Regions from separate parts of the Homo sapiens genome. Here all the other regions are reported to be linked to region 1. The links are microRNA targets in miRTarBase. Many come from high-throughput screens and were not tested one by one. Region 1 holds a microRNA gene; each other region holds the end of a gene's coding sequence. Distances are between the middles of the regions.

Evidence for each region. The annotated mature microRNA hsa-miR-4433a-3p reads ACAGGAGUGGGGGUGGGACAU and lies in region 1 at 1,190-1,210, shown strand. An mRNA with a match to its seed (bases 2 to 7 or 8) in the 3' UTR can be bound and repressed. Matches are read on the target gene's strand: a 7mer-m8 pairs with bases 2 to 8, a 7mer-A1 pairs with bases 2 to 7 and ends in A, and an 8mer does both.
Region 2: miRTarBase lists TCF23 as a target of hsa-miR-4433a-3p. Seed matches in the 3' UTR shown: 7mer-A1 at 418-424.
Region 3: the mRNA of ZNF610 is a reported target of hsa-miR-4433a-3p. Seed matches in the 3' UTR shown: 7mer-A1 at 2,187-2,193 and 8mer at 2,083-2,090.
Region 4: miRTarBase lists UMPS as a target of hsa-miR-4433a-3p. Seed matches in the 3' UTR shown: 7mer-A1 at 544-550, 7mer-m8 at 1,036-1,042, 7mer-A1 at 1,353-1,359, 7mer-A1 at 1,948-1,954 and 7mer-m8 at 3,019-3,025.

The regions. Positions count from the first base shown.
Region 1 is chr2:64,339,620-64,342,734 of GRCh38, forward strand. MIR4433A (microRNA 4433a) reads left to right here and starts at 1,140; the gene lies at 1,140-1,220. It overlaps MIR4433B (microRNA 4433b), which reads right to left and starts at 1,229; the gene lies at 1,128-1,229. It overlaps LOC105374768 (a long non-coding RNA gene), which reads right to left and starts at 2,090. Exons shown (of 3, transcript NR_189739.1): 1 at 1,916-2,090.
Region 2 is chr2:27,152,385-27,155,384 of GRCh38, reverse strand. It overlaps TCF23 (transcription factor 23), which reads right to left. Exons shown (of 3, transcript NM_175769.3): 3 at 1-2,697. The coding sequence ends at 2,518. Among named protein-coding and RNA genes, the nearest start is that of TCF23, 4.9 kb to the right of the region's middle. RefSeq lists an enhancer at 2,412-2,471.
Region 3 is chr19:52,366,322-52,369,436 of GRCh38, reverse strand. It overlaps ZNF610 (zinc finger protein 610), which reads right to left. Exons shown (of 6, transcript NM_001161425.2): 6 at 1,659-3,115. The coding sequence ends at 2,670. It also overlaps a transcript of ZNF880 not described here. Among named protein-coding and RNA genes, the nearest start is that of ZNF880, 2.0 kb to the left of the region's middle.
Region 4 is chr3:124,743,596-124,746,710 of GRCh38, forward strand. UMPS (uridine monophosphate synthetase) reads left to right here. Exons shown (of 6, transcript NM_000373.4): 6 at 320-3,115. The coding sequence ends at 489. Among named protein-coding and RNA genes, the nearest start is that of MIR544B, 13 kb to the left of the region's middle.

The DNA.
Region 1 (3,115 bases):
TCTCCTGCCCTTTTCCTAAAATACTCATGACCACCAAACACTATTTATTCCAGTATATCTTGTGGAAGGGGGTGTTGCTGAGTATTAAGCAAAAAACTTTATTTTTGTATATTCAAACTTATGGAATAAGTTCAGGAAATACTGAGTTAAAAGGGTTAAAGTGTTGGTTTTTCAACTGCAGGACTTCTCAGACTCTTTGAGATGCTGATGTACACAAGGGGTATGGGCTGCATGTTTCTACATGCTGATTTGATATAGAACCCTAGATAGAGCATCTCGCAAGACCAGTGGTCCCTGGAACCCAGCTTAGAAAACACTGCCCCAAAGAAGTCTCCTGAGAAAAATGTATTGCTGTTGATCTTTCAGCCTTCGTCACTGCTATCCTTCCCCTAAAGGGCTTGCCTTCAGCCTCTCTACCCATCCTGGTTCCCCCAGTGCTTTGGAACCAGGACAGACACACTCTGCTCCTAATAAGCATTTCATAGTCAGCCCCAGCCCAGAGCTCTCCTTATCATTCATTCATTCATCAAATATTTTTTGAGCATTTACTTTCTTCCAGGAGCTGTGCTAAGAGATATAGTAGCAACCAAGGAACATTCCAGTAGGAAACAGACAGGTAAGTAGATGGGTTTAGTATAGTGTGAGAAGTACAATACAAACACACCCAAGGATAGATCCAGATTGAGTCTTGGACAGTCGGAAAGACTTCCAGGGGAAAAAAAATGGCATCTTTTCTTCATTTCCACACTTAGCAATTTTTCTATATTGGTTTGTCATTTATTCATTTAATCACCAATCATTTATTGTGGGCTGGGCACTGTGCAGAGATAGTAATCAGACTTGACTTGAGGACGATAAGAAATCACTGAAGGGATTTTAAGCAGAGAAAGGACATGATCTATTTACACTGGTAGATGTCACTTTGATTGTAGGAAAAGTGGACCGGCCAGGGCAAGGCTTGAGGCAGGAAGCCAGCTAGGAGACCACTGCATGAACCCACATAAAAATGAGGACCTGGGCTAGGGAAGTAGCAGGAAAAGTGGATTTTGACAGATATCTAGGACAGAGCCAACAGGACTTGGACAGCAATGGGATGTGGGGGAGTAAGAGGGAATAGTTTAGGATGATGTTCTTTCCCCCATCCTCCTTACGTCCCACCCCCCACTCCTGTTTCTGGTGAAATATTCAAACAGGAGTGGGGGTGGGACATAAGGAGGATAGGGAACACAGGATGAAGGGCAGGTTACAGGGGTCCACGTGCGAGGGGAAGATAATGTGTTCAGTTTTAGACATGCTGAGCTCATGATTCCAATTCCTTTGGACATTCCAGTGGAGATATCTGGCAGGCTGATTTTTCTCACGAGAGAAATCATGTCTGGAAATACAGATCTGAGAAGCAGCAGCAACATATGGGTGGCCACCAAAGCCGTGGACTCAGTCAGCACCATTAAGCCAGAGTGATGGGTGAGATGGGTGACAAGGGCCCCCCTTGCAGCAGGTGGGTGACAAAAGAAGAATCAGTGTTGCAGCATGGGAAGGACTGCCCAGAGAGAAAGGAAGTGAACCAGGAGAGGATCTAGAAAAAGGACACTGGGCAATGAGAGCTTGGAGCGGGCCTCTGCACCAGGGGAGGGGTGGCTTTGACTGGCAGATACACATGTCTAGTACACGTGGAGGGTATGAAAACTCCAGGGAAAGAGAGGGGCAGCAGGAGCTCCCTCTTTTTGTAAAACAGGCTTTCTCTTAGGCGTAGCCTTCTAACTGATCTGCCCCACTATCCTCAACCCACTCTCCACTTCATAGCCAGATAGGTCTTTTCAAAACACATCTCTGATCACATCACCGCCTCTCCCCCAGCTCTATTAAAAACCTTTGGATATTTCTATGGCTCTTAGCATGCAGACCAAACTCCTACCTGGCCTGGCCTCTACTTCCTTCTCCAGGTGCACCTTCTGCCAGACTCTCTTGCTCTCTCCCCTGCAGCCAGCTGGCTTCCATTCGGCCTCGCAGACTCGTTGCATGGGTGTTACATTGTTGCTGTCAGAGCCATGTCCACCCTTCCCATCCCGTGGTCCCCCGATCTGCTCTGTGTCACTGGGGGCTGTTCCAGGCTCCAGAGCCAACTGCCTTCCAGTAAAGTTCAGCCAATGGGGAGTGAGGGAGGGCAAAAGATATTGGAGGTGAAGGAAGGAGAAGCCAGAGTACTTCTCCTGCTTCTCTTTCTCAGGAGTCTCTTCTGTGGCTGCAGTTCCCACTACACAGCCATCTCTGTGTGATCCCTGCTACCCATCTTGGCAGGCCCTCTTTGTTCCAGCTTATCTTGTCTTAGGCTCCAGAAACTGTTTCTTTCCTTGTTCTCCAGCTTCCAGGGTGGTGCTATGGGTTGAATTGTGTCTCCCCTGCAAGTTCATGTGTTGAAGTTCTAACCCCCAGTACTTTAGAGTGTGACCTTATTTAGGGTTGTGGTCTTTATAGAGTAGCCGAATTAAAGTGAGGTCATTAGGGTGGACCCTAATCCAATATGAATGTTGTCCTTATAAAAAGGGGAAGTTTGGACAGAGATAGACACACACAGAGGGAAGACGATGTGAAGAGACATAGGTGAAAATGGTCATCTACAAGTCAAGGAAAGAGGCGTGGAACAGATCCTTCCCTCATAGGCCTCAAAAGGAACTACCCCTTCTGACACCTTGATTTTGGACTTCCAGCCTTCAGAACTCTGAGACAATAACTTTCTGTGTGAAGCCACCCAGTCTGTGGCACTTTGTTACTGCAGCCCTAGCAAACAAATACAGTAGTCCCAGCTTCCTGGAGTTGCTACTCTCAGGGTTCCCCTGGGAGCTCTTTCAACTCCTCTGACTCCCCGTATGAAATTCCCTCTATCAAATCACCTAGAGTGGGTTTTGCTTTCCTGGCTGGGTCCTGACTAATATGCCTGCCATGATCCTTTCTGCCACAGAGGACATAGTGCTTCCTCTGCCTGGTATTTTTCCCCCTCTCATCTTTACCTAATGAACTTTCCCTAGTAAACTCATCTAGGTCATAGGTAAATGTCACTTCCTCAAGAAGGCCTACCCCTGTATAGTCATTACCAGCTCTTATGGCTCCAAGCACC
Region 2 (3,000 bases), 37 Mb from region 1:
CTCAAGGGCATTACTGTGCTTGTCAGGGAGGGAGGGCCCAGTCCATCCTCTGGTTATTCCCATCCATCCCCTAGGCCTTCCCTTGGCTCACCCTGCCCCCTGCCAGGCCCCTTTGCTTGCTGGCCTGACGGGGCTGGGTCTCTGTGGCTGGAGGAGATGGCCTCTGCCCCACCCCCCTCGACTGTCCTGGGCACAAAGGAGAACAGCTTTGCCTGGAAAGGGCCCAAGACACCCTGAGAAACTTGTAGCGATGGGACCTGCCTCCTGCAGCCCTCCACCTGCGTCATCCTTCCTGTGCCCTCCTTGTCTACACCAGGGCCATGCGGTCACCCCTGAGGGCTCTAATGTTACTAGGCAAAGGCCTGAGTCTGAGCAGGACAGGGTGGGGCAAGCTCCAACCCAAAGTCTACTCTATTATCAGGAGAAGCTCCATGCTATCCAGAGGACCCCGACACACACCCCAAGCCAATTTCCCTTCATCCCCAGGAAAGTGTGCCACCAACTGAGGAGGAAATGTATCTGCTTCTCTTCCTAGCACTCCCGTGAACTCAACCAGGAAGATACTGCTGTTTGGCTTTAAAAATAGTACATTCTAGCTGGACTTTTATGGTCTTGTGAAGAACACTGTGCTCATGCCCTCCCACACCTGGCCTCTGCCCCTGCCTGGCCCTGTCCAGCTGCCCACATCAGCTCTGCACAAGCTCTTCAGGGTCCCTCTGCAGAGACGTGGTTCAAGGCAGATTTACGAGTTCAGCCTTGGCCGAGGCCTTCTCCCCATGGCTCCCATCCACATTCCAGCTGTTCTCCCACATCCCAGGCAGCTCGGGGCTGGGATGTTCTGTGTCTCTTTTTCTACCTCTACCACAACTGGCTCAGTCGCACCCCCAGCCCTATTTCAGCTCTGCCCTGGCCAGCCCTGTGGAGGTACAGGGTCCTGTCATGCCAGAACCCAGACCCCAACCATTCCCAGCCTGCCCAGAGCTCACTTACATTCATGATAACAACAATGGTGTGTGTCTAAGGATAACCTTGTTGGGACTCTAGTTGGTCATGCCCGTCCCCTCCCACTCTGAAGGGCTGAAATTTAACCGAAAGGTAATTTGTTCCATCTGGACTTCAGGTGCCAGGTTTGAGGCTACATCCGATCTGGAAAGTTATTTTCAGTGTGTGTAGATTCTATGATTAGTCCTCAAGTTATTTCTTTAGGGCCAGAGATGAGTTTCACCGAAGCTATATCACATTTCTGGCACCCCATGGTAGGACTTAGAGAAAGCCCCCAAGGACGATCTCCATGAGGCGGAGCCGGCCCTAGGGAGCTAATAGACTATAGAAATAACTCCAGAGCCAGGGAAGCCTCGAACACAAATTTTACAAGGAGCCAATTGAGTGGTTGAGCAGTTGAAGGCAGGCCTATCTTGTTTTTGCTTGAGGGCAGGTTTCTAACATAATGGAAAGAGAAGACTGTAATGATCACCCCCTATATACCTGATCTTCTCTTAAGGTCCTTCAAGGATGTAATTGATTCTGTCAATATCCTTCATATTTAAGGCCATAAGTTGCTGCTTGGTTCAATTAAGGTAGAATTGCTTCTGGTTAAGATCTCAAACTAGGCATCTGGGACTATCTAAAAGTTTCTCTGGAAACTGGAATGTAAGCAATGCAAGATGTATGGCTTAACCTGTAGATATAACTCATGTCAAGAAAACAGTGGGGTTGGGCATGGTGGCTCATGCCTGTAATCCCAGCACTTTAGGAGGCTGAGGTGGGAGGATCACTTGAGGCCAGGGGTTCGAGGCCAGCCTGGGCAACATATCAAGACCCCCATCTCTACATAAAAAGAAGAAGAAACGAAAAGAAAAGAAAAGAAAAGAAAAGAGTGGAAGAGTGCAGGAGCCGAGAGGGAGAGAAAATGTAGTGGTGAGGGGCAGCTTCTGGAAAGGCCCATACTACAGAGGGAGGAATCCTGAATTCCTCACTATCTCTCTAACATCAGGTAAGCATCTCATGATGCAGTTAGAAAGCACATTTCCTTCTTCAGTTTCCCCTCTGGCTGTGTGACCCAGCCCAGATCTGTTTACACTTGGAGCTACCAGGAGCCTATCCGGCCACCTGGCTTTCCCATCAGCACCTGGGGCTGGTGCCATCCCAGGCCCCTCCCTCTGCACCTGCCTTTTTGCTATCTGCAGAGGGTTTGTAGAAACCTTAGGGGAAGAAAGCTAGGGTGGTTCCCTACCTCAACTTTGAGCCCAATTATACCTCTTTCTCTCCCACTTCCCAGTAGCTGTCACAGAAGAGCCATGGGGAAGTCCCCTCCTGGGGACCAAGGAGGAGGCTCTCCAACCTGTGCCCCTCTAGGTACTGTCCATCACAGAAGTGCTACTGCTTCTCTTGGTCTGCATGCTGGAACTTGGGAGCTGAGTCTGAGTCAAGTCTGATGGCTGAGAATCTGGGGGCTGGTAGAAAATCCAGGCCCATAAGCATGAGTCACAGTCTAGGAGAAAAGGGCGAGTGTGATAATTATTTGTCACCAAGAGCTGGTGAGAGTGGTGTGGTGGAAAGGAGAGCATCTGCCTCTCCAGGGACTTGGGACCCCACCTCTGCATCTCTTGTTCTTTGGCTGGGGGTGCTGGCTGTGGTGGAGTCAAGATCGGAGTACCCCAGGCCTCCAGCATAGAGACGAGATCGCATCGGCCACTTCTGCAAGACACAGATTGGGAAGTGAGAAATGCTGCTATTGCAGCCCTTCGTGGTCCAGGATCCTTGACACCCAAAACCCAGCCTTCTCCAGCATCCCTCCCTGACACCTTCCCCAGCCATCACTGCTCTGATCAGGGTCATCATCATGTACAGCCCCACACATTCTCCTGATCACCCAGAGCCTGGATGAGAGACACAGGAGGAGCCATCTGAGGAGGGAGAGGGCCCCAAGAAGAGCAGCGCTCTGTTGGGAGGGAGGTGGACAGAAGATCAGCTGGCCTGGGCAGAGCTGGCAACAGCCAG
Region 3 (3,115 bases), not on the chromosome of region 1:
CAAATTAAAATATGAAATGCAAAACCCTGCCAGGGCGGAATGTGCAATTTCCTTTTTTTTTTTTTTTTTTTTTTGGAGACAGAGTTTCGTTCTTTTGCCCAGGCTGGAGTGAAGTGGCGCGATCTCGGCTCACTGCAACCTCCGCCGCCTGGGTTCAAGCGATTCTCCTGCCTCAGTCTCCCGAGTAGCTGGGATTACAGGCGCCCACCACCACACCGGGCTACTTTTTTGTACTTTTAATAGAGACAGGGTTTCTCCATGTTGGCCAGGCTGGTCTTGAACTCCTGACCTCGTGATCCGCCTGCCTTGGCCTCCCAAAATGTTGGGATTACAGGCGTGAGCCACCGCACCCGGCCAAGTTTTTTTTTTTTTTTCATATTTATATTAATCCTAGTGTATACCTGCCATTGTCTTATGGACATACTCAGGTCACAACTTTTTTTTTTTTTTTTTTTTTTTTTTTGAGATGGTCTCCCTCTGTCTTTCAGGCTGAAGTGCAGACAGCTCACTGACTGCAGCCTCGACCTCCTGGCATCAAGTGATCCTCCCATCTCAGCCTCCCAAGTAGCTGGGACTACAGGCACACGCCACAATGCCCAGTCCCATGTCACAAAATTTTGTCTCCAAACAGCACTCATTTATTTGTCCCCTAAAGTTTTCACCAGAGCAAAACAGGGAAGAAATGTATTAAACATAGAATTTGGAGGCAATGTAGGAAAAAAATGTAAAAATATATATACATACAAAAAATATAAAAATATACATGCTAGGTGTGAATTGTAACTAAGTTTCCAGTATGGGTAGTGGGTATCCCCGCCCCAGCCCTACCCTTTAGCAATCATGACACCCCAAGCCAGTCACCTATCCCAGTTCTCTGAAGCCACTTTTGGACCAGCTGGAAAAGTATACCCTGCTTTCCCCCACAGAGCCTCATTATATAATAAACACTCTCAAACCATATCAGTGTATGGGATCATCATTCTCAAGATCCAAGCCAAACCTTAGGGGGACTTCAAACAAGTTCCAGAAGAGTGGTCAAAAATTCAAATTACCAAAAGAGTTGTGAGGGTGACTATATGAAGTTTCTAGTTAATGTACCAAAACAAAATTCCCTTTCTGTGTGTGACTTAAAAAGAAGATGGGTGAACATTAATATTTTCAAATGATGTCACTGAACACTAGAAGTACAAAAAGAAATTGTGTTACAGTATTATTATTATTTTTTTTTTTTTGAGACGGAGCCTTGCTCTGTCACCAGGCTGGAGTGCAGTGGGGTGATCTCAGCTCACTGCAACCTCTGCCTCTTGGGTTCAAGCGATTCTCCTGCCTCAGCCTCCCAAGTAGCTGGGATTACAGGTGCACACCACCAGGCCCAGCTAATTTTTTTTTTTTGTATTTTTAGTAGAGACAAGGTTTCACCATGTTGACCAGGATGGCCTCAATCTCCTGACCTCGTGATCCACCCAATGCAGCCTCCCAAAGTGCTGAGATTACAGGCGTGAGCCACCAGGCCCGGCCATGTTACAGTATTTTTGCCCTCAACCCATACTTTATTTCCTAATATTTGTCATATTACTATATATTTTTGCTGCATGAAAATGAAGGTGCACACCATAGTTCTTATTTGGCACACAAGAAAGAGGCATGTAGAAACACAATACAGGGCATACTCTTTAACACTCACACACATTTGAGGGTGTACAAGGCTGAAATTGTACTATTAAAGTGATTTTGACTTTACCCACATAAACATCCTACACCAGAGTACAGAGAAACTAACTCAAGTACTAAGTGTAATTACTCAACATCATACTTACTTAAGTATATTGCACCCAGAAGCGTATGTTGTTTTATGTCTCACACACATACACACACACACACTTTTCTGGCTGCTTCAACCTTAAAATCATAATGGGTTATTATTCTCTACTATAAAGTATCCTCCTGAGGTAAGATTAAACAACGCTGGTAGAAAGGATGTAATTCATTCACACTAAGAAAAATTTAAACTAGGCCGGGCGCTGTGGCTCACACCTATAATCCCAGCACTTTGGGAGGCCAAGGCCAGTGGATCACTTGAGGTCAGGAGTTTGAAACCGGCCTGGCCAACGGAGGGAAACCCCGTCTCGACTAAAAATACAAAAATTAGCCGGGCAGTAGTGGCACATGCCTGTAATCCCAGCTACTCAGGAGGCTGAGGCAGGAGAATTGCTTGAATCCGGGAGACGGAGGTTGCAGTGAGCCAAGATCATGCCACTGCACTCCAGCCTGGGTAATACAGCGAGACTTCGTCTCAAAAAAAAAAGAAAAAACTAAAAAAAAACTTTAAACTTTATTACTTAAAACATGAGAAGTATGTACATTCTAAATCAAAGAGTTACAAATTACGGTGCCAGCAGTTAAATGTGAATCCTACTCAAGAATATGCTATACTGGTAGTTTTCATTAAATGCTCTATTCTGATATAACTGTTCTCTCTTTATAGATTATTTATATATGTTATTAACTTTACATTTGTAGGGTTTCCTTTCAGTGTGGATCAAGAGATGAGTGATGAGGCTTCAATGCAAACTAAATTCTTTGCCACATTTATGATATTTGTAAGGTTTTTCTCCTGAGTCCTCCAATGTTGTGCTAGGTGTGAATTCTAACTAAAGATTTTGCCACATTCATTCCATCTGTAAGGTACGCAGTGAATTCTCTCCAGCATGAATTTTCCGATGTCGTGAAAGGTGTGGATTTTGATTGAAGACCTTGCCACATGCATTACACTTGTAAGGTCTCTCTCCAGTATGAATTCTCTGATGGTTGGTTAGGTATAATTTGCGCCCAAAGACTTTGTCACATTCATTACATTTGTAAGGTTTCTCTCCAGTATGGATTAGAAGATGGGCCATAAGGCCCGGACGCTTGTGAAATGCTCTTCCACATTCGTTACATTTGTAGGGCTTCTCTGTACTATGAATTATTTGATGCCGTGCAAGGTATGAAAGCAGACTAAAGACCTTGCCACATTCATTACATTTGTAAGGTTTTTCCGCCGTGTGACTTCTCTGATGATTGGTTAGAGAAAATTTGTGCCTGAAGTTCTTGCCACACTCATTACATTTGTAAG
Region 4 (3,115 bases), not on the chromosome of region 1:
CCACTGCACTCCAGCCTGGGTGACAGAGCGAGACTCCGTCTCAAAAAAATAAATAAATAAAAATAAATAAATAAATAAATAAATAAAATAAACTTTACCATTGAAAAGGAGTTGGTGATCATCTTTCTCCATTTGACGTCTCTGGCCTACCCAGTGAGTCTCTTCAGCTCCTGTTTTTACGCAGTTGCTGTACAAAAGGGGAACGAAAGTAGGGGCATGTTTTTATTTAAAGCTGGTTAGATACTTTTTCAGAGAAGTCATGTGACAGGTTTTCTGATTTTTGTATTATGTGAAACAACAATTTTTGTGTTTCTTGCAGGAGATAATCTTGGCCAACAGTACAATAGCCCACAAGAAGTTATTGGCAAACGAGGTTCCGATATCATCATTGTAGGTCGTGGCATAATCTCAGCAGCTGATCGTCTGGAAGCAGCAGAGATGTACAGAAAAGCTGCTTGGGAAGCGTATTTGAGTAGACTTGGTGTTTGAGTGCTTCAGATACATTTTTCAGATACAATGTGAAGACATTGAAGATATGTGGTCCTCCTGAAAGTCACTGGCTGGAAATAATCCAATTATTCCTGCTTGGATTCTTCCACAGGGCCTGTGTAAGAATGGGTTCTGGAGTTCTCATGGTCTTTAGGAAATATTGAGTAATTTGTAATCACCGCATTGATACTATAATAAGTTCATTCTTAAGCTTGCTTTTTTTGAGACTGGTGTTTGTTAGACAGCCACAGTCCTGTCTGGGTTAGGGTCTTCCACATTTGAGGATCCTTCCTATCTCTCCATGGGACTAGACTGCTTTGTTATTCTATTTATTTTTTAATTTTTTTCGAGACAGGATCTCACTCTGTTGCCCAGGATGGAGTGCAGTGGTGAGATCACGGCTCATTGCAGCCTCGACCTCCCAGGTGATCCTCCCACCTCAGCTTCCAGATTAGCTGGTGCTATAGGCATGCACCACCACGTCCATCTAAATTTCTTTATTATTTGTAGAGATGAGGTCTTGCCATGTTACCCAGGCTGGTCTCAACTCCTGGGCTCAAGCGATCCTCCTGCCTCAGTCTCTCAAAGTGCTGGGATTACAGGTGTGAGCCACTGTGCCCAGCCTAATTGCAGTAAGACAAAAATTCTAGGGCACCAAGAGGCTAAAGTCAGCACAGCTTTTCTTGTGTCCTGTATTCTCTGTCTAATGTGTTGCCCAAATAATACCTAATTGTTAGCCATTCCCCTCCATCTCTGGCCTAAAAGTGATAGTCCAGGTATCCACATGGGCTGGTTCCCAGAACTGCCATTGCTCACTCTCCAAAGAGGGGAAGGTGGGGAAGGGGAAGGTGACTATAGCTCAGCTCCTGAGCTAGTATCTGGCTGTTATTTCAACAACCGGAGTTGGGGTTTGGGCTCATTTTTTCCCCTAGCCAGCAATTATGGACCAGTAGTAACACAAGTGACAGCTTCCTGTGACTGACTTCACAATTAGGAGGTCTAAGATTCCATTTGGGTATTTGCTTAAGGATCCCACATAATTGTCCCAACGGTCATTAGTAGAGGGGAGGTAAGCCTTCATTAATAATAAAGAGAAAGCCCACATTCAAGGTGGTGTTTGAGCAGGGGCAGGGTGAGGGCTGTCCCGGTGCTCATTGCACCAGCACACTCACATTCCTTCTCATTTGGGGCCCACCTGCAGGAAGTGGCACAGGATCAGCCATTTCCCCACCCTTGTCAGCTGATGGCCCACTGTTCTTTAATGACTCAGAGGAATGCCTAGGATTTTTTTTTTTTTTTGAGACAGAATCTCACTGTCGCCCAGGCTGGAGTTCAGTGGCACGATCTCGGCTCACTGCAACTTCTGCCTCTCTGGTTCAAGCAGTTCTCCTGCCTCAGCCTCCCGAGTAGCTGGGACTACAAGCCTAGGATTTTTAACTCAGGTTTTTATTATATTCCCTCCTGAAGTTTTTACTTCAAGAGCTTCTGCTCTAAAGTCCAATTTGGGCTTCATGTCCCCAGTGCTGCATCTCCAGGGAAATGCTGTCTGTGGGAGAGACCAACTCTCAAGGAAGAAGTGGCCACAGAAGGAGCAGGAAGGGAGTTGGCCCTCAGGGCTACTCTGGGGAAGCCAAAAGTCATGAAGGGGAGAAGAATTTTCTGACAAAAACTTGCAGGAATCTCTTAGGTGTCTTCAGTGTTGGAGTGATATGTTGAGAGGCCTTTGGAGTGATGTGCTGAGGTCTCAGGCGCCCACCTCCCTGGCTGTCACTTCCATGTGTCAGTGGTTCTCCCACTTTAGCAGGTATCAGAGTCACCTGGAGTCTTGTCAAAACAGGTACCAGCCCCACCCGCAGCGTTTCTGACTCTGGGTAGCTCTGGGATGGGGCTTGAGAATTTGCGTTTCCAAAAAGGTCCCAGGTGATGCTGCGGTTGCCTGCGCAGGGACTGGACTTTGAGAACCACTTCACTGGTTATTCACATTTCTGCCTCTGCAGTGAGACAGCCTTGAGGTCTGCCTCCTGCTAAGAGTCACATGCTCCTGTCCTTTAGAAATGTGGGCTCCTGCCATCTCCAGGACGCAGGCACTGTTCCTGTTGATGAACCCTATTTCACAGGACCCCTGCTAAGGTGATTTGAGGGGAAATGAGAGGAGGCTCAAATAATCACCCAGCCCCTGCCACTTACTGAAAGTGTAGGTCCTTGTGCCCCACACCATCAGAGTTTCTGCGTTAGCAGATTTGTGGTTTGCCCAGCAGCCTGGGCGTGTGCATTTCTAATGGGTGCCTCAAGTGATCTGTTTCTGATTTGTATTTCTATTGTGAAGAGTCAGCCCAGTACTGCAGGCCTCTTACCTAAGCAGAATCCCAGTCTGGCATCAAAGCTTTAGAGGACAAGTTGATTCAGGCAGAGAAGAACTTGGGCTATACAAGCGCTGTTCTTCAGCATTGAAGTATTTTGGAGGCATTAGATAGTTTAACCCTTTCTCAGTCAAGGAATATTTACAGAACATGATCTCTGGGCATTGTAACTCCTGGTCTTAGTGGGGAATATAGGGACCCCATGTCTCCATGGGGTGCACAGAATGTCTGTGAGACTGATGGAGTGGAGAACGCCATCCCCCAGC